Homo sapiens: one gene and its partners. The protein of the gene in region 1 purifies or fractionates together with the protein of each later gene. This does not show direct contact. Each region holds a gene or a part of one and is shown in the gene's direction. Other genes may lie near its edges.

Region 1 (7,100 bases):
AGGCTTTTGTCAAGACAAAGCACAGGGTTGGAAGATCCTCCTCTGGCAGTTTACTTTGCAAGGAAATGTGAAACTAAAATCTTAGATCATGGGGTGAGGCAAAGTGGTCAGCCGCACAGGGCATTTGAGCATCTGATGTGGTTCAAGTTTGGTAAACTAGTTTAGAGATGCTGTGCTATTTGTGGTGAGAATGCAGTGTGACTGGGAATGATTTATGAAGAAGGTATTATAGTTTAGAAGTATGTTTATGCTTTCATATCTTTATATATTTTAAACTTGATTTAATTGGCCTTGTGTTGGAAGACCAGTTATTTTCTATTGTTCTCAGGTTCTAATTTTGCTATTAAAGTACTTTCATTTTGAAAAAAATCACTCAATCTGGAGCTGCTTTTGTTCAATTCCTTCTCATACCCTCCCTATCCCCCCTCCCCCAACTTGTAACAGCAATTTTGAAGCAAATGTACGTGGGTGGTTTCCATGGTACAAGACAACAACTTTCACAGAGAGAGGGCACTTCAGCTTGAGCTAATTGGGCATGACATGTTCCAGTGTTCTGGTGTGTAAACACAGATACCCTAATATTGCAGGTATTTCAGCAGTTGATCAGGCATGTTAGAGAAGGAAAACATTTAGTCTCATTATTCTGAATGACAAATGCAGTGGAGGAGAAAGGATGGGCAACAATGATGCCAGGAGATTGGTTCATTTGAATCATGCTATACCCAACTCCCATAACTGTTCTGTGTTTCTGTTGACAGGACCAGGAAGAACAAGCTTACTTTGCAGTGTTTGATGGCCATGGGGGAGTAGATGCTGCTATTTATGCCTCCATTCACCTCCACGTTAACTTAGTCCGCCAGGAGATGTTCCCCCATGATCCTGCTGAGGCCCTGTGCAGGGCCTTCCGGGTCACTGATGAGCGGTTTGTGCAGAAAGCAGCCAGGGAGGTATGCCCCTTTCTCATAAGTTCCAGCTAGAAATGTACTAGCTGAGCTCAATTTGGTCTGTGTGGTTAAAGGGCTATTTAGATTTTCTCTTTCTGGGCAGACATTATCCAAACTGTATTCTTGACTCACAGTATTGGATTCTGTTGTAGTTCCAATTCCCTCCTCAGGAAGAGTTTCAGGGGGTACAATGAGGTACTGTATAGAAAATCTCAAGCTGTAATTTTCTGGATTCATTTCTGTAATAACTGCTGGATTTGGCAGGTGAGTTTCATCTTTCTTTTATTCACCATTGCCTGTCAGGTTCACACCAGGACCATCTCTCTAAGCAGACTCTTGCTGACAAGATCTGGATATGGTGAATAAAACAATGGTCTAAAAAAGAAACAGAAACTGGGATTACTTCCATACATTTGGTTCTAAATGGGTAGGCAGTGTTTTGCTGTGTATCTCTTGAGGGAAAATTCGCTTGGAGAGGGTGAATCCTTAAATGATCCTTGAGCTGATTTTTCTCTTAATAGGGAGAAAAGAAGAGCTCATGTCCTACATTGCGAAGGTTAATCAGACCTAAGTTTTTTTTACTTTGAATAAATGGCAAGGGCTCTATATTAAGGTCTAAAAGTAAAAAAATTAATCTAATTATCGTTCTGGGTATTGGTACATAATTAACTACAGTGTTCTATATTGGATTTTTAACTGGGGACGAATAAAAGAATTTTTAATTTTTAAAAATAATTACAGAAGTAGATACAGACAAAAAATAAGACTCCTGCCCTGTGACTTAAACATTAACTCTTTTTAAAATGGGCTTGGAGAGATCAGGGTAATCATTTAATCCATTTTTTGATAGCATAGTTATGCTACAAGCAATAATGGGGCTTAGAATTAATGAAACAATAACTCAGACCTATTTGGTATTAAGAAAGAGAATTATTCTTCATCTCTCCCCTCCCCTAAGTTTGGATTAATATGCAAATCCAACAGTAACCAGTAGAGTCCACACAAAGAGGTGGGTCTGGAGAATAAAGCCACTCTTGACCTCAGAGCTCCAGTCTCTTGAGGACCTGCATTCTGCTTGGCTCTGCCTCTCTTGAAGCTGTGGGCTTTTATCATCTGAGTCGAGGACAAGGGCCGGCCCCTGAGAGGTGACCCGTAATCATCAATGTGAAACAAAGAGATTCACTCTGTCTTCTTCATCCTCTATTCTATTCTTTTTTTCCTCTGTCTTCTCAAAATTATGTGTTGTTGTTGTTGTTGTTGTTTTCTGACCATGTTTACCTCATTTGTTTTGTCAGTGACCCTGGTGTCTCTCAGTTCTGCCAATAGTTCTGAATAATTTAGGTTTGTCTCAGCGCCCCTTTTCTCCTTCTTATGCTTCCATGTGCTGCTAACTGCTGGGAAGAAAACAGCTATTCCTGTTATGAAGCAGCCCTGCCTCCTGTTCTCTCCAGGGCATATGCACTGAAGTGTGTTTATCATGTGTTCTAGGGGGCTGAGTTTTTGAACATTCTGTGTGGGAAGACATTTTATTGGTGGGTGAGGATTTATAACAAACTTTCCCTATATAGGGAAAACGAGAAGTTGTTTTTCTCATTGGATACAAGAGACCTTTTACCACCCCTGACGCATTGGTTCTAATTTAGGCCAGGTCCTTAGTAACAGAAAGTCATGCTCATTTGGTGGTGACTCATGTCAAATGGGGATGTCATTTTCGTATAGTAGGACCAAGAGCTTTAAGTACAGTCGTAGCTACTGCAGTGAAATTCCAGGCTGTTAGTTCTTTATGCAATGTTCCAAAAGCAAAGACCCCTAAAAATACTGTAGGAAGGATATTTTTTTAAAGGTATAAGCATCTTAGTACTCCAGGGAACGTAAGCTGTCTCTTGGCCCCTTAGCTTAATTTCCAGAGATTAGAGCATCTGTTGTGTACCAATCAGATGTTTTATATATCATTTTATACAGCTAGGACTCTCCCACTGAACAAATACGATGTCAGTAATGAAATGGAGAGCAGAATATAGAAATTTTTACTCTGAGGATTGGTATAGAGGATTTAGTGCTTGACTGGGAGGAAAAAGAATTTCAATTCTGTCTTATATACTAATAGTTACCTGCCCTTGGGCAAGTCACATAACCTGCCATAGTTTTCTTATCTATATTTAAAGTGGAATTAATAATCATCCTCGCCCTGCATATCACAGATCAGGTGGACTTATGTGTGTATATACACATAAATACATACATGCATATACAAATGCATTGAGACAATGAATTATTATATATGTGTGAAATTCCATTATTAATAGTATAGCTCCCAGCTGAAAAGCTTAATTATAAATTGCTTCTCAATAAGAATGTAGTATCTATTTCTTTTCACTGAGTCTAGTTTTATTTAAACTGTTTTCAGAGCTTAAGATGTGGGACCACAGGAGTGGTGACTTTCATCAGAGGCAACATGCTACATGTGGCCTGGGTGGGTGATTCCCAGGTTATGCTTGTGAGAAAGGGCCAAGCTGTTGAACTAATGAAGCCACACAAACCAGACAGAGAGGTAAGTATGGTCTGTTTTAATAGAGCCCATGCTCTAGTTATTAGTTTAGATTTTCTAGTTATTGATTAGGATTCACTTACTTTTTTTTTTTTTGAGATGGAGTTTCACTCTGTTGCCCAGGCTGGAGTGCAATGGTGTGATCTTGGCTCACTGCAACCTCCGCCTCCTGGGTTCAAGCGATTCTCCTGCCTCAGCCTCCCGAGTAGCTGGGATTACAGGCATGTGCCACCACGCCCAGCTAATTTTTGTATTTTTAGTAGAGACGGGGTTTCACCATGTTGGCCAGGCTGGTCTTGAACTCCTGACTTCAGGTGATCTGCCTGCTTCGGCCTCCCAAAGTACTGGGATTATAGGCGTGAGCCACCGCGCCCGGCCAGGATTCACTTAATTATTACAATTATTGCTATCACATCAGCAACTGTGCCCACCCTCCAATGGAGAAACAAAGAGAACCTTTTCATGAGCTGATGAGTATTATATCTGTTGTTTACTGTTAAAGTAAATGAATAAATCCTGAATCCAGTTATTTGCTTCTTTTTATTGCATTGCTGTTTAGGATGAAAAGCAGAGAATTGAGGCCCTTGGAGGTTGCGTAGTCTGGTTTGGTGCCTGGAGGGTGAATGGAAGTCTGTCGGTTTCCAGAGCTATTGGTAGGAAAAACAAATTTTTGTTTCTCCAAACTGTCCTCTTCTAGCTCATTCTCCTGTATCAACTCTGATACAGGGAACCTGAGATGATAATTTATGTTACCAGAATGCTTATTATTCTTTAAAATAATAATTGGATAACGTCTCTTTTAATTGTTTGATTTAGTTAAACCTGTACATTTATATACTTAAATTCCATTATTGAAAGAGAACTGCCAGGCTCAGTGGCTCATGCCTGTAATCCCAACACTTTGGGAGGCCGAGGCGGGTGTATCACGAGGTCAGGAGTTCAAGACCAGCCTGGCCAACATAGTGAAACCCCATCTCTATTAAAAATACAAAAAATTAGCCAGGCGTGGTGGCGGGCGCCTGTAATCCCAGCTACTTGGGAGGCTGAGGCAGGAATATTGCTTGAACCTGGGAAGCAGAGGTTGCAGCTAGTGGAGATCGCGCCATTGCACGCCAGCCTGGGTGACAGTGTGAGACTGTCTCAAAAAAAAAAAAAAAGAGAACCATATCAAGAAATGCAGAATTTTCTAGTTTCTATACATTTAAAATTTTATGGAAGCCTTTAATCAGTACCCAAATCTGCTTCAAACCACAGTGGTTGGGACAGGCACAGTGGCTCACGCCTGTAATCCCAGCACTTTGGGAGGCTGAAGAGGGTTTGAGCCCAGGAGTTAAAGACCAGCCTGGGCAACATAGTAAGACTTCATCTCTTAAAAAAACAAAAAACAAAAAAAACAAAGGCCGGGCGCAGTGGGTCACGCCTGTATTCCCAGCACTTTGGGAGGCTGAGGTGGGCAGATCATGAGGTCAGGAGATGGAGACCATCCTGGCTAACACGATGAATCCCCGTCTCTACTAAAAATATAAAAAATTAGCTGGGTGTTGTGGCACACGTCTGTAGTCCCAGCTACTTGGGAGGTTGAGGCAGGAGAATCACTTGAATCTGGGAGGCGGAGGTTGCAGTGAGTCGAGATCGCGCCACTGCGCTCCAGGCTGGGCGACAGAGCGAGACTCCATCTCAAAAAAAAAAAAAAAAAAAAAAAAAAAAATTGCTGGGCGTAGTGGCTTGTGCCTGTAGTCCTAGTACACAGGAGGCTGAGGCGGAAGGATTGCTTGAGTCCAGGAGTTTGAGGCTGCAGTGAGCCAAGATTGTGCCACTGCACTCCAGCCTGGGCCAAGGGAGTGAGATCCTGTCTTAAAACAAAAACAAAAAATCATAGTGTTTCTCATTTCATTGCATTTTGGGTCAAATCAGTATTTTTCAGAGAATGGAAGCCTTTCTCCGTATTTTATCCACATTCATTTTGTTTATGCCTCTAAATTATTTCCATGAATTTTAAAATGACATAAATAACAGAATAAGTTGATAGGAAAAGCATTGTGCTTTTTATATGAAAACTACTTTCTGTATGTGGAATACAGTCACCTGTCAGATAACCCTGGAGTTTCAAAGAACCCTATATCCCTGGGACTTAAATTTTTCAAAAGAAGGGAAAGTCAATGAAACTCGGTCTAAAACGTAGAGATTAAACAGCTAAGTTGGCTGGACAAAATACAAGGGTATAAGTTCAAAGAATTAAGCTATTTCTGTCTTTGTCTCACTTTGGGCCCTGGGTTTATTATTTTAGGCTTCATGGCTTAGCTTCACTTCCTGTTTTTTTAAAAAAGAATAAATCAATATGTATATCTATATGGGTGATATGTACATTACATGTATACTGCAGTTTTTAATCTCTGCTTCCCTAAAGAAATGAAGTAATTAGACATGGTTGGAATTCACATCTAGTCTCAAAATTTAGTTAAAAATTACCAAAAATTCCAGAACATGAAGAAAATCTGAAAGGATTTAGCTTTCACCACTGATTTGAGTTCCTCCCACTCTTTGGGAAGGTGCTAGCAAGCTGTGAAGTGGCCCAAATATGAGTAGAAAGCTGAAAGAGAAATAGCTAAAAGAGTCTACAAATACCTCCTGAAAAATTGAGATTTGGCTTGACCTTAGACTGGAGGGAATTATTAGGAACTCTAGAATAAGGCCAAAAAGGGGAAATGTCTCATTTCTAAAATATACCCTTATATGGAATTATTATTATTATTATTGGTGGGGAAAAGTCTTTATCATGCACATTGTAGGTTTAGCAGGACCCACTACCCATCAAATGCTACCCTTGACTGAAAATCACCGAACCAGAGGACTATACTATCTGTGGAACCAATTTACGTTAATGATCATTATATGAGTGCTTGAGTGGCCAGTGAATTAGGTTTACAACTCAAACCAAACACCTATTTCTCCTGATCTGACCTTTGTCAGAGGATTGAGGATCATCTTTAATACTTGTTACAGAACTAACTTAATAGAGAATACCAGCTTCTTCTTCTAAAAGGGAAAACCAAAGCAGGGAAGAATGTCCCTTAATAAGTGACAATCTCAGAGAAAAGGCTGGGTATGGCAGCCAGCACTGTGGAAGGCCAAGGAGGGAGGAATGCCTGAGCCCAGGATTTTGAGACCAACCTGGGCAACATAGTGATACCTCATCTCTATTTTAATAATAAAAAATAAACAATCTAAGAGTGGATAAGGGAGACTTCATACATAGAGTGACTTTTGAGTTGAATGTGGAGGATAATGTGCTGGGAAGGAAATCCCTACACAGGTAGAGGGAAATATAAATACACAGGGGTTTGAAAAGGCATGGCATGTTTTAGGAAAAGCAACAAGTCCAGGAGGTTAGAGCAGAGATGGGAGTGGTAGATTAGCAGTGTTGGTGCCAGATTGCAAAGGGCCTTATGTGCGAGGCTAAGTAGTCTGGACTTTACCAGGTGAATACGCAGAGGGGCCACAGGGTCAGCTTTGTATTTATAAAGATATTTGTATGGAAGCTGGGCTAGAGTAGAAAGAGCCTGGCTGGGAGACATTCATACAGTTTGTTACAGAGATGAGGAGAGCTA
Region 2 (7,000 bases), on another chromosome or scaffold:
TTCTAGTTTGTTCATTTCTTCTATAAAAGTTTTACTTTGAGCTAGTCCCTGTGTTCAGATAGGCTGTGGAAGATGCTGAGAAGAAGGTGATATAGTTTCTGCTCCCTAGCAGTTCACAGATTGGTGAGGAAATAAGACATCCATACACTCAGCTACAACCTGTATGTAATACTACTTGTATTTAAATAGTAGTTACCACGTGCCAGGCTTTGTGTTGGGTACAGTTACACAGGGTATGTCTGAATGTCTTGAAAGTAACTCTTACCAACAAGGGATCATAGGTCCCAGTTTTACACTTAAGAAAACTGAGTCTCAGAGAAATGAAGTGACTTGTCCAAGAGGTACCAGCCAGCATAATTGGTGGTAGCCAGAGGAAGAGAAAGACCCTTAGGCTCTTATCTTGAGTTGTTCCTGGCCTGGCAGAGGAACGAAACTCCTTCCTGGAAGACAGTGAAAGATAAGCTCAGGACTCAGGGTGGCCAATGGCAAGGTCAGGATCAGGCTCCACTACAGCAAGGCTGAGGGAGGGGGTTAGAGGGACTTTCTGTCTGGAGCAGGCAAGGTGAGGAGACAGAGCCATCTCTTTCACCTGGTGACTCTGGACCTTCCTTCTTTCTGATGATGAAGTCCAAGCATCTGAATGGGGATGAGAGAAGTGGCAGTAATTACAGGCGGATCCCATGGGGCCGGAGGCCTGCACCACCGCGAGATGTGGCCATTTTACAAGAAAGGGTAAGAATCCAATGCTGTCCAGTCTCTTCTCTTCTTCACTTGCCCTCTTCTCTGCCTCCTTCCAAGTTTTCTGCAAGCATGTTAAGATCTCTCCATCTATTCCTCTCCTCCCAGGCTAATAAGTTGGTGAAATACCTGTTGGTTAAGGACCAGACAAAGATCCCCATCAAACGCTCAGGTAGTGTCCTACCAACCCTCCTCCTTGAGCTCTCCTCTCCACTCCCCTCTCCTCCCATAGTCTGGGAGTAACACTTTATGGCCTCTTTGTTCTGTCATATCTCCACACCTGCCCTCCTTGCACTCTGCCATGGCTGGCATCTCCCATTAACTCACTTCAGGTCTCTGATTGCACTGACCCAACAGGACTGGCAAAAGGGCTGCAGCTCTGTGGCCCCTGCTAAGCTCAGCTACTCTCACCTCTCCTTTTCTACAGACATGCTGAGGGATGTCATCCAAGAATATGATGAATATTTCCCAGAAATCATTGAACGAGCAAGCTACACTCTGGAGAAGGTGAAGGGGCAGTGCTGGCGGATGGGCGCAATGGGGAAGCTTTGAATCGAGCAAAGACATACATGTCCCTTTTGGAGAGAATCACAGAAACATGCTAATCCAGCCCCATTACTGTGTGAATGGGCAGACAGTGGCCTAGGGAGAGGTGTAGATTTGCCATGGGTCACACAGCATGTCAGTGATGAAAACATGGCTAGGACAGAAGCCACTCAAATTAGTCTCAGCTTCTATTCATAGTTGGACATATTCTGCATGTATTTCAGATCTCACCTCTCCCTTGTATCCCCATTTTCTGTCTCCCTAGATTCCTGCTCATCACAAAGATGATGTTGATGACAATAGTACATTTGCTGTGTGTTTACTGGGTGCCAGGCACTTGGCTATGTGCTTTATGTGCATTATCTCACTGACTTCTTACACATGCAGACCCCCTAAGTACACTGGGAGTTTTAGGATGCCCGGAAAGTTCACTGATACCTAAGCTGAATTTTGTGATCTCACAGGCTATTCTTTTACTTGGCAGATGTTTCGAGTCAATCTGAAAGAAATTGATAAGCAAAGTAGCTTGTATATTCTCATCAGCACTCAGGAATCCTCTGCAGGCATACTGGGAACGTAAGCTGGGAAAGGGCTGGAGTGGGAAGGAAGCTTCTGCTTTTATCTGTGCTGCTACCCCTTCTTTGTCCTACTTCCCCCATCCTCTTAGAGAGTCAGGAAAAACAGGGTCTCAAAAGCCCTGTCTCAGCACCTGCACATAGTTGGAGCCCTGCTCACAGTAGTGGCACCTGATTATGATTGACTGAAGGGTATAGGAGCCTAGGGTGGGACATTCCTGCTGTCAGGTTTGCTGTCTCTGTAGAAGCTTCCCAGGAAAGCAGGCCTGTCATTGCTTGCCTCTTCCGATGGAGTGCCTGGCCTGGCTTTGACAGAGTGGTTCTCAAGGAGGGCTTCCTGGTGTGGCTGGATCAGTATGCATGAAGCGCAAGAGTGTCAGTGGGGCTGAAGGTTCTGGGAGAGAAAGAAGGGACTCACATTGACTGAGTGCTTGTGTTGTACCAGGTTGACAGCCATTCTTCCATCTTCTTGGCAACCTGAGGAAGGGAGAATATGATTTTCCCATTTTACTGAATAATAGACCAAGGCTTGCAAGGTCTAAGTGCCTTGCCCAGGGTGGCATAGAGCTGGAAGCAGAGACTGGGCAGAATTCTGTATCTGAGGAATCTGGGAGAGGTTAGCCTGGTGAGCTGGCTGGTGTATCTTTTGCGGATGGCTGCTGAAACATAAACCTTCTTTCTGTCCTGTTGAAACATAAACCTTCTTTCTGTCCTGTTATTCCCTTAGGACCAAGGACACACCCAAGCTGGGTCTCCTCATGGTGATTCTGAGTGTCATTTTTATGAATGGCAACAAGGCCAGTGAGGGTGAGTGGCTGGGCATGCAGCTGAATGGGCGGCCATGGTCTGGATTCCATGTGTTCAATTTCTGTCCCTGTCTCCTCTTGCCTCCCCTCACAGCTGTCATCTGGGAGGTGCTGCGCAAGTTGGGGCTGCGCCCTGGGTATGACTGGGCTCTCTCAGCGCTTGCTGTCCGTGTTGTCCTTTGGCAAGAGAGGATGGTCCTAGGATTGCATCAGTCTGGTGGTCTGGTGGAGCGGGTGGGGTGCTGGACTGGGTAGAGGGCCCAGGGTTCTGACCTGGGTGGATGACGGGCAAATGGTCCTGAACTCTCTGCTGTCTCTCTCCTTAATGTCCTCTGTCTGTTCTAAGCTGAGATGTTAGATAGACCTTCAGGGATCCCTGACAAAGAGGCATCTGGTCTTAACTGCTTGCTTCTAGTGGCCATGTGCTCATTACTTTCTTCACTTCATTGAGACTGCCCCATGTGCTAGAGAGGTCTCTTCCATGTTGGGAAATGCCTCTGCCCTCATCTGGGCAGTTCTGATCTGTGTTCATGGGTTATTTTTCCCATTGTCAGGGTGAGGCATTCACTCTTTGGGGAAGTGAGGAAGCTCATCACAGACGAGTTTGTGAAGCAGAAGTAAGTGGTGTTTGGGGCTTTGTCTGGCCCTGAAGTGTTCTGGGTATACTGATCTGGTTCAGAAAGTGCTTAGTCAGTGCCTTTCTTATACTAGCTTTAGAGGGATGGGCATCCTGTGTCCTAGAACTGATACTGTCTAAAATTCCCATGGGCAGACCTTTCCAGGACTGGGCCAGACTCAACACAAGGCCCTTGCAGTGGGGTGCGCTCAGAGCAGAGGGCCTTAAGAATGGCTCCTCTGTTTACAACACACCCAACAGGAATCTGGGCTTACTCCTCACAGGTGGCATGATACTTTGGCCTTCCTGTGACATCATGCCCTATACATGTCTCCCCTGGAGAAGCCCAAGGGACTGCTTTGCACAGGGCCAGTGGGAAATGGCTCAGTATTGGAGGCCAAGACCATAAACTGTGTTTGGTAGTGAGTCTGGGGCTGGAGGGTCTTAGAAATCCCTCTCCAGGGGCTGTTTGTATTTGTTTGGAGGAGGTTGCCACCTGGTGTCTAGTGCTTAGACAGCAGGGTTGCTTGGTTAGAAACAAGTTTCATTTCCTTTTTCCAAGGTACCTGGAGTACAAGAGGGTCCCTAACAGCAGACCACCTGAATATGAGTTCTTCTGGGGCTTGCGCTCCTACCACGAGACTAGCAAGATGAAAGTCCTCAAGTTTGCATGCAGGGTAAGAGGAGAGCTGCCCGAGCTTGGCATATTAAGGCAATGGGATACCCTTGGCTGGGGCAGGCAATGCACAGGGATGGGCAGGTACAGAGCAGCCTGCAGCTCATATATAAACATGTGGAGCCTCCTTTATGTCCCAGGGTGCTGCTAGATATATAGTTTACATCATCTCATTCATTCTTCATACTTTGTATTAATCAGCATGGGCTGCCATAACAAAATACCATAGACTGGGTGGATTAAAAAACAAATTTATTTTCTCATAGTTCTTGAGGGCGAGAATCCTAGGTCAGGGTCCACGAGGGTCAGTTCCTGTTGAAGGCTCTCTTCCTGGCTTGCAGATGGCTGCCTTCTTGCTGTGTCCTCACATGGCTTTGTGTGTGAGAGAGAAGAGAGCAAGCTTTCTGGTGTCTCTTCTTATAAGGACACTAATCCTGTTGATCAGGACCCCACCCTTATGGCCTCATTTAACCTTAATTATCTCCATAAAGGCCCTATCTCCAAGTACAATCACACTGGGTGTTAGGGATTCAACATACGAATTTGGGGGCGGGCACAACCCTTCAGTTCATAACATATTTACGCTCTATCATTTCCTGTAATTATAAAGACACTTAGGCTAAGTGAGGTTAAGTAACTTGTCCAAGGTCATATAGCACGTAAGTCAGCAGAGCTGAAACTGGAGTTCAGAACTGACCCATGATAGAGCCCCAATAACTGAGAAGTTTAAAAAAGTATTGCTACTAGTTTAATACAAAGCCCGTAGGTTAATACATGATTACTAGGGTTGTTTTCTTATTATGATTATCATCCCCATTTCAGGTGCAGAAGAAAGACCCCAAGGACTGGGCTGTGCAGTACCGCGAGGCAGTGGAGATGGAAGTCCAAGCTGCAGCTGTGGCTGTGGCTGAGGCTGAAGCCAGGGCTGAGGCAAGAGCCCAAATGGGGATTGGAGAGGAAGCTGTGGCTGGGCCCTGGAATTGGGATGACATGGATATCGACTGCCTAACAAGGGAAGAGTTAGGCGATGATGCTCAGGCCTGGAGCAGATTTTCATTTGAAATTGAGGCCAGAGCCCAAGAAAATGCAGATGCCAGCACCAACGTCAACTTCAGCAGAGGAGCTAGTACCAGGGCTGGCTTCAGCGATGGTGCTAGTATTAGCTTCAATGGTGCACCCAGCTCCAGTGGTGGCTTCAGTGGTGGACCTGGCATTACCTTTGGTGTTGCACCCAGCACCAGTGCCAGCTTCAGCAATACAGCCAGCATTAGCTTTGGTGGTACACTGAGCACTAGCTCCAGCTTCAGCAGCGCAGCCAGCATTAGCTTTGGTTGTGCACACAGCACCAGCACTAGTTTCAGCAGTGAAGCCAGCATTAGCTTTGGTGGCATGCCTTGTACCAGTGCCAGCTTTAGTGGTGGAGTCAGCTCTAGTTTTAGTGGCCCACTCAGCACCAGTGCCACTTTCAGTGGTGGAGCCAGCTCTGGCTTTGGAGGCACACTCAGCACCACGGCTGGCTTTAGTGGTGTACTCAGCACTAGCACCAGCTTTGGCAGTGCACCCACAACGAGCACAGTCTTCAGTAGTGCGCTTAGCACCAGCACTGGCTTTGGAGGCATACTCAGCACCAGTGTCTGTTTTGGTGGCTCTCCCAGCTCCAGTGGTAGCTTTGGTGGTACACTCAGTACCAGTATCTGCTTCGGTGGCTCTCCCTGCACCAGCACTGGCTTTGGAGGCACACTTAGCACCAGTGTCTCCTTTGGTGGCTCTTCCAGCACCAGTGCCAATTTTGGTGGTACACTAAGTACCAGCATCTGCTTTGATGGCTCTCCCAGCACTGGTGCTGGCTTTGGTGGTGCTCTCAACACCAGTGCCAGCTTTGGCAGTGTGCTCAACACCAGTACTGGTTTTGGTGGTGCTATGAGCACCAGTGCTGACTTTGGCGGTACACTAAGCACCAGTGTCTGCTTTGGTGGCTCTCCTGGCACCAGTGTCAGCTTTGGCAGTGCACTCAACACCAATGCTGGTTATGGTGGTGCTGTCAGCACCAACACTGACTTTGGTGGTACACTAAGCACCAGCGTCTGTTTTGGTGGCTCTCCCAGCACCAGTGCTGGCTTTGGTGGTGCACTCAACACCAATGCCAGCTTTGGCTGTGCCGTCAGCACCAGTGCCAGCTTCAGTGGTGCTGTCAGCACCAGTGCTTGCTTCAGTGGTGCACCAATCACCAACCCTGGCTTTGGCGGTGCATTTAGCACCAGTGCTGGCTTCGGTGGGGCACTTAGTACCGCTGCTGACTTCGGTGGTACTCCCAGCAACAGCATTGGCTTTGGTGCTGCTCCCAGCACCAGTGTCAGCTTTGGTGGTGCTCATGGCACCAGCCTCTGTTTTGGTGGAGCTCCCAGCACCAGCCTCTGCTTTGGCAGTGCATCTAATACTAACCTATGCTTTGGTGGCCCTCCTAGCACCAGTGCCTGCTTTAGTGGTGCTACCAGCCCTAGTTTTTGTGATGGACCCAGCACCAGTACCGGTTTCAGCTTTGGCAATGGGTTAAGCACCAATGCTGGATTTGGTGGTGGACTGAACACCAGTGCTGGCTTTGGTGGTGGCCTAGGCACCAGTGCTGGCTTCAGTGGTGGCCTAAGCACAAGTTCTGGCTTTGATGGTGGGCTAGGTACCAGCGCTGGCTTCGGTGGAGGACCAGGCACCAGCACTGGTTTTGGTGGTGGACTGGGCACCAGTGCTGGCTTCAGTGGCGGACTGGGCACCAGTGCTGGCTTTGGTGGTGGACTGGTCACTAGTGATGGCTTTGGTGGTGGACTGGGCACCAATGCTAGTTTCGGCAGCACACTTGGCACCAGTGCTGGCTTTAGTGGTGGCCTCAGCACCAGCGATGGCTTTGGCAGTAGGCCTAATGCCAGCTTCGACAGAGGACTGAGTACCATCATTGGCTTTGGCAGTGGTTCCAACACCAGCACTGGCTTTACTGGCGAACCCAGCACCAGCACGGGCTTCAGTAGTGGACCCAGTTCTATTGTTGGCT
Region 3 (7,000 bases), on another chromosome or scaffold:
TCCAGGTTGTGGGCTTTAGGTGGGAGCAACAGCGTCTGTCAGTTGATTTCATTTCTTTCTAGTAATTTTCACAATTCGCTCTTATTGTTACATTAAACTAAACCTCAGCAACAGTAGTATTCAGGCTGAGACTATTCTCTTGTTCTGAACGTTTGGGTTTGTTTTTTCAGCTTCCATTTCTAGCTTTACTAAATAAAAATGTTGCATGAATATTCTCAGCACTGGAATTTGAAGTAGGAAGAAAGCTGAAGTCGACATGTCTTTGTTTTCAACTAAGATTTAGTGTTTTCTGGGGAGGAGTATGGTAAAGTTGGTAAGAGTATGCATTTTTGATATCAGGCCTGGATTTGGTTCTCAGCTCTACCATTCACCACCTGTATCACCTTAGACAAATAATCTAACTCCTCTGGACCTCAACTTCATCTGTAAACAGATAATATTTCTCATAGGGTCAATGATCATGTAAATTAGATAATATCCATAAAAGGAATATAATACATGGTAAGAGCTCATTAACTGTTAGCTGCTTTATTTTTGTGGTAGCGTGGAAACTTACTGTTTTTGTTGTTAGTGGTTATCTTGGAATGGACATTGGATTGAATATGTGCCTCCTTGTTAGCACATAGTGCTGTGAATAACATGTCTGGGTAGGGGTTAATTCCACAGTTACTCAAAAGGAAAGAAACCAATAAAGAAAAACAGAGGTTTAGTTTAAAAGGAGTAATATGGCCAGGTGCGGTGGCTCACCCCTGTAATCCCAGCACTTTGGGAGGCCTAGGCGGGCAGATCACGAGTTCAGGAGTTCGAGACAAGCCTGGCCAACATAGTGAAACCCCATCTCTACTAAAAATTCAAAAATTAGCTGGGCGTGTTGGCACACGCCTGTAGTCCCAGCTAGTCAGGAGGCGGAGGCAGGAGAATCGCTTGAACCTGGGAGGCGGAGGTTGCAGTGAGCTGAGATTGCACCACTGGACTCCAGCTTGGGTGACAGAACGAGACTTCATCTCAAAAAAAAAAAAAAAAGGAGTAATAAGTAATATACACTCTGCTATCTTTATTTCCTTCTCTCCTCTTTGAAGAAAAGCTCAGGTAGAAATAACAGATTCGGTAATCTTCTGTGTCAAAATATGCATAAAATGGTTGAGGTGATTGTGGGAGTGAGAAAAGAGAAGGATTGAAGTTCAAATCTTAAATGGCACAGACAAGGGGTTTACAGGGAGGAAGGTCAGAAGAGATATAAATGAAGAGTCAGATTAGTATTCAGGAAAGTACGTGGAACTGAAGTTGGGAGATCTGTTCTTCCAGTCTCACTTTCTCCATTCATGGTTTGTGCACCTTCCCTGCTATACAGACTGGACTTGAACACTAAGTCTTCAATAGCTGAGATTCTCCATCTTAATCTACTTGGAGGCAAGAGCAGGTGAATCAAGATAGTGTAATGTCTCAGAAACAGGAATTTCAAGAAGAAACAATGTCAGATGTTACAGAAATAAAGGAGGATGAGAGCTGGGAAAAGGATGGGATGCTCAGGAGGCCAATTTTTCTAGATTAGAGGGACAGAGAAATAGCTGCAATATGAGATTTACTATGGAACACCAGGTAATAAGAATTATCCCAGGTCCTCTTGCCAACTGTGTAGATAACATCGATGTTAATAAAAATTCTCTGATATGTCAGGAAAAATGTATTCATGTGCTTTCATCAATGGCCTATAAATTAAACTATTTGAGAGTTTTTTTTTTTTTTGAGACAGAATCTTGCCCTGTCGCTCAAGCTGGGGTGCAGCGGTGTGATCTTGGCTCACTGCAACCTCCGCCTCCCAGGTTCAAGCGATTCTCCTGCCTCAGCCTCCTGAGTAGCTGGGATTACAGGTGCGTGCCACCGTGCCTGGCTAATTTTTGTATTTTTAGTAGAGACGGGGTTTCACCATGTCAGTCAGGATGGTCTTGAACTCCTGACCTCGTGATCCATGCGCCTCGGCCTCCCAAAGTGCCAGGATTACAGGCATGAGCCACCGCACCCGGCCGAGAATTTTTTCAATTCAAAGTTGGAAGATAATTTTTAGTTTGTTGCTGGGTGAGATGGAGCTAAATCTCCTTGTTTCTCTTTAGAATTTTAATTGCAGTTCTCACTTGAAATGATTTTTTTTGTTTTTGTTTTTGTTTTGTAGATTGGTTGTTTCATTATGGATGGAGGGGATGATGGTAACCTTATTATCAAAAAGAGGTTTGTGTCTGAGGCAGAACTAGATGAACGGCGCAAAAGGAGGCAAGAAGAATGGGAGAAAGTTCGAAAACCTGAAGATCCAGAAGGTATACTGTGACAGTCAGTATAATGGTCTTTAATCCACACAGCAACCCTGCAGAGTAGGTATTAATTGTCCTCACTTGGTTTTATTTATTTATTTTTTTGAGACGGAGTCTCACTCTGTTGCCCAGGCTGGAGTGCAGTGGCGCGATCTTGGCTCACTGCAACCTCTGCCTCCCAGGCTCAGGAGATTCTCCTGCCTTAGCCTTCCGAGTAGTTGGGATTACAGGCACCAGCCACCACGCCTGGCTAATTTTTGTATTTTTGGTAGAGATGGAGTTTCATCTGTTGGCCAGGCTGGTTCCAAACTCCTGAGCTCAAGCCATCCTCCTGCCTCGGCCTCCCAAAGTGCTGGGATTACAGGTGTGAGCCACCATGCCTGGCCAATTGTCCATACTTTAGAGTTGAGGAACTGAGACTCAGGGGCGAAGTCACCTATGTAAGGTCCTGCACAGCTGGGAGCAGAGCCAGCATACTCACATCCTGCTTCTTTTCTGCCTACCACACTTCCTTCCAAGAGATTCTGCTCCTCTCCTCCATCTATACAGGTGGATCCATGGTCTGAACAACTGAGAACACTGCTGCTGTGGAGGGTTTGGGCTGGCCCCTCAATCAGTTAACTGTCTCAGGCCATGGGCGCTATTGACATTGATAGTTGGCTTTGAGAACTGGTGGCCCCTCTCTGAGGTCCAAAGGGAAACTGGACTTTGTACTATTTTTGTGTTATCCACACCCTCAGATCATGCAGAGACTTGACTTTGTCTTTAAAACCTTTTGTGATTCCAAAATAATATGAAAACAATCTGAAGTGTATATCTCCTCCCCGTCCACCTCTCTCCCCTCTCCTTTTCCTTTCAGAATGTCCAGAGGAGGTTTATGACCCTCGATCTCTATATGAAAGGCTACAGGAACAGAAGGACAGGAAGCAGCAGGAGTACGAGGAACAGTTCAAATTCAGTAAGCTTCAGAAAACAGAGAGTTCAAGGGGCTCTGTGGGGTACTTTTGACGCACTTTTGCCTTGTGCAGCACTTTTCCTAACTAGCCGTGGAATTGTCTTGATTTTCGAGTCTCCGGATGCTTATTTGGTGGAAAAGAGACAGCCTTCAGCCTTCTAGACCACATTGAATATTTTTGTTTAGAGCTCAAAACACCCATTTTAATTCTATGGTAATATTTAGTAATGGGAAAAAATGCCTTGTTTTTTTTTATGCCCTGTTATCTATTCAAACGCCATGGTATTTACCAGTTCTTTTTTTTTTAATCCCCTGAAGAATCTGCTGCTTATTTAAAAAGGGGAAAGGAAAAATCTTATTTTTCCCTTTAGCCTGCTAAGTGTGCCTTGTTTAATTATTTCCTCAGAAAACATGGTAAGAGGCTTAGATGAAGATGAGACCAACTTCCTTGATGAGGTTTCTCGACAGCAGGAACTAATAGAAAAGCAACGAAGAGAAGAAGAACTGAAAGAACTGAAGGAATACAGAATATCCTTTGTACTTGGAGGAAAACCTGTAAGGTGTCCATTTTCTCATCAGCATCTATGGATGTTGTCTCCTCATCAACAGAAAGAGGGTTTTCTACCTGGTGATCTCTCAAGTCCCTTTGAACACTGATATTCCTGTAATTCTGAAAAGCTGGTAGTGGTTTGTGGAGTTTGTGTTGTGTGCAAGAGTGTTATAGTCAAAAGTCCACATCCTTCTTAGGGTTAACTCAAGGCATCAATCCTACTAGTACTGGGATTAGATTCTGACACAGGTGGGCAGTGCAGTCAGCTTCATCCAGGGGAGAAATTGGGCTCTGAGTTTTAAAAGAACATGTTTAGCAACTTTCCTATATTCTTAGTAAGATGTTCTCTAGTGGTATAGCATGCCCTGTCCTGATAGAAGGGCTGAGAAAGCAGCAAAGATGACTTTGCTCTAGATCAGTGTTGCCTTTTGGTCATCCACTTGAATGTCTTCATAGACATCCCAAATGAAACTTGGCTGAATCAAAATTCTCAATACTGTGCCACATCACCCCCACTCTCATCACACTGCCCTTCCCCAAAGTCTCTTCTTTTTCTGGTCCTCCCAGTCCCAGTAACTGGTAGTCCTATGCCTCCAGGTGCCTGGGCCAAGAACTGTTTCCAAAACGTACTCCAAATCTCTTGAATTGTTGGTATCTACTGCTACTGTAGTAGTAGTAGACTTTCTTCTCGACTCCTGTGACCATCTAATTGGTTTGTTTCTGCTCTCATCCTCAATAATCTATTCCTTAGACAAGAAAGGGAACTTTAAAAACCATACATGGCATCATGTCACTTTTCTATTTGAAACAGTCTAGTGGGTTCCCCTTACATTTAGACTAAAGTCTTACTCTGTATCAGGCCGTAGAAGGTTCTACATTATTTAGGCCAACCCGCCTCCTTCTTGCATCTTGAAGCCACTCTTTCTCATGTTGACTGTACTGCAGCCTGCTGGCCTTCTTTATGTTCTCTTTCACCATGCTTTCTGAGTCAATCTCAGGGCCTCAGACTTGCTGTTTCCTCAGCCCAAAATGTTCTGCCCTCAGATTTTGCAAGATGCATTTCACAGCTCAGCCCTCTGCTCAGCTCTCCCTTTTAGAAACCTTCCCTAAGCACCCCACCTAAAATTGCTGTCGGTAATATCAATTTTTTTTTTTGAGATGGAGTTTCTCTCTTGTTGCCCAGGCTGGACTGCAGTGGCGCGATCTCGTCTCACTGCAACCTCCGCCTCCCGGGTTCAAGCGATTCTCCTGTCTCAGCCTCCCAAGTAGCTGGGGTTACAGGTGCATGCCACCACGCCCAGCTAATTCTTGTATTTTTAGTAGAGACGAGGTTTCATCATATTGGTCAGGCTGGTCTCGAACTCGTTACCTCAGGTGATCCGCCCACTCCAGCATCCCAAAGTGCAGGGATTACAGGCGTAAGCCACCGCACCCAGCAAGTAATATCATTTTTTATAGATTTGTCACTATCTGAAAGTTGTCTTTATTTATTTGCCTACTGGTTTGTTTATCTCTTTCCTGCTAGAATGTAAAGTAAATGAGCTCCATAAGAAAAAAGACTATCTGACTTGGTCACTTCTGATTTCTCCAGTGCCTGGCATATAGTAGATTCTCAGTAAATATGTGAATAAATTAATAAATGATTCATAGGAGATATTAATAGGACCATTTATCTTCATGTGAGGAAGCTTATTTGGATATTTCAAGCTTATATGTTGAGTAACATCACTGGTGTAATCCAACAGGCTTCACGTCTAAGATGGACGACATTACTGTGTATATGTACTAGTTGGTATTTTCTTGCAGAGAATGTGCAGCACATTCCATTTTAAGAGTTACGTGGGAGGCCTGGACACAGTGGCTCACGCCTTTGATTCCAGCACTTTGGGAGGCCGAGGCAGGAGGATCGCTTGAGGTCAGGAGTTTGAGACCAGCCTGGCCAAAATGGTGAAACCCTGTCTCTGCTAAAAATACAAAAATTAGCCGGGCATGGTGGCTTGTGCCTGTAGTCCCAACTACTCAGGAGGCTGAGGCAGGAGAATCGCTTGAACCTGGAAGGTGGAGATTGCAGTGCGCCAAGGTCACGCCACTGTACTCCAGGCTGGGGACAGAGCAAGACTTTATCTTAAAAAAAAAAAAAAAAAAAAGCGTTGTATGGGAGAAGACATGGACAGATTCCCTGATTCCCTGGGAATTGATTTACATCAGAACTGGTAGGAAAAGACCTGGCTTCCAGTCCCAGTTCTGTTACTGGCATTCAGGTGCAACATGGAGATGGAAGCTCATGGGAAGTTATACCTCAATCTCAACTGTAGGATTGAGGCTGATTATTCTGAACTCCCCCTTCCCTGACCCTGATGACCCCAAAATAATATGTGTTCGTTTGTAGAGATAGGCAGATACCCATATTGTGTTGTTTCAGACACCAAGCTTTTTCCTCTAAGGAAATACATTCATTACACTTCTCACTTGAATGATATTATGTTTTATTTTGGTAGACTAGCAAATAAGACATATAGTGTCCCCCAAAGTAGCATCTGGGGAGAAGTGCTGTTGAGTGTGAGATGCCCTTTGGTTTTCAATTAAAAGGAAAGAATGAACAGGGCAGCAGTGAGACAAAAGAAACCTTTGTGTCCTGGTAACATTGCAGTACAATGAGGCTCCAGGGATAAGGGCTTTAACTGGAAACTTGGAAAGTTCTGTCTAGAAAAACTGAAGAAAAGCAGGCCTTCCAAGTCACTGACATCTAATACACTAATCCCAAGCATGCAAGTAGCCAGAGACATGTTGAGATAGGAATTGAAGGATTAGACATTTGTTTATTGAAGCTCTAAGTTAGGAACTGTTTCTAGGCTTTGCTTGATTACTATATGATATGTTGTATAATAGGATACTTCTGAATACAAATAAGCTGTGGTTTAAACCATGTAAATAACAGAACTCTTGTTTCGTCTCAGGTTAAACCAGTATTTAGCAGTATTGTGTATGTTAAAAAACGGTGCAATTTTAAGAGAATGCTGATCTAATGAATTTCTTGAGATTTTTGAGGTGTGTTTGTGTTTTTAAAGCATTTTGGGAGAAGAGGGGCTTAAGAAGGAAAAATTGCTTGTACTTTGCGGATCAAAAATAAGATTATTAACACCCCCTACCCCTAAAAGGTTAGGACTTTTCTTCATTTCAAAAGAATAA

What was found. The genes of interacting proteins can lie anywhere in the genome.
Region 2: the proteins of PPM1E (region 1) and TRO purify together in Homo sapiens (affinity purification with mass spectrometry; 2 studies listed by BioGRID and IntAct, with this or other methods). This does not show direct contact.
Region 3: the proteins of PPM1E (region 1) and PSME3IP1 purify together in Homo sapiens (affinity purification with mass spectrometry; 2 studies listed by BioGRID and IntAct, with this or other methods). This does not show direct contact.

Annotation. Positions count from the first base shown.
Region 1 is NC_000017.11:58,968,781-58,975,880, forward strand, and holds part of PPM1E (protein phosphatase 1E), read left to right. Parts: exon of another isoform or gene 1-758; coding exon 759-947; exon of another isoform or gene 948-1,249; coding exon of another isoform or gene 1,250-1,319; intron 1,320-3,351; coding exon 3,352-3,495; intron 3,496-4,051; coding exon 4,052-4,145; intron 4,146-7,100. UniProt on the Homo sapiens protein: Protein phosphatase that inactivates multifunctional CaM kinases such as CAMK4 and CAMK2. Dephosphorylates and inactivates PAK. May play a role in the inhibition of actin fiber stress breakdown and in morphological changes driven by TNK2/CDC42.
Region 2 is NC_000023.11:54,923,824-54,930,823, forward strand, and holds part of TRO (trophinin), read left to right. Parts: intron 1-627; coding exon 628-732; intron 733-846; coding exon 847-910; intron 911-1,165; coding exon 1,166-1,245; intron 1,246-1,768; coding exon 1,769-1,860; intron 1,861-2,586; coding exon 2,587-2,666; intron 2,667-2,759; coding exon 2,760-2,802; intron 2,803-3,219; coding exon 3,220-3,282; intron 3,283-3,481; exon of another isoform or gene 3,482-3,612; intron 3,613-3,843; coding exon 3,844-3,958; intron 3,959-4,779; coding exon 4,780-7,000. UniProt on the Homo sapiens protein: Could be involved with bystin and tastin in a cell adhesion molecule complex that mediates an initial attachment of the blastocyst to uterine epithelial cells at the time of the embryo implantation. Directly responsible for homophilic cell adhesion.
Region 3 is NC_000016.10:57,169,040-57,176,039, reverse strand, and holds part of PSME3IP1 (PSME3-interacting protein), read left to right. Parts: exon of another isoform or gene 1-498; coding exon of another isoform or gene 499-501; intron 502-1,019; exon of another isoform or gene 1,020-1,322; coding exon of another isoform or gene 1,323-1,325; intron 1,326-1,351; exon of another isoform or gene 1,352-1,420; intron 1,421-1,434; exon of another isoform or gene 1,435-1,575; coding exon of another isoform or gene 1,576-1,599; intron 1,600-1,749; exon of another isoform or gene 1,750-1,871; intron 1,872-2,054; exon of another isoform or gene 2,055-2,076; intron 2,077-2,170; coding exon of another isoform or gene 2,171-2,185; coding exon 2,186-2,312; intron 2,313-3,165; coding exon 3,166-3,264; intron 3,265-3,667; coding exon 3,668-3,789; intron 3,790-7,000. UniProt on the Homo sapiens protein: Promotes the association of the proteasome activator complex subunit PSME3 with the 20S proteasome and regulates its activity.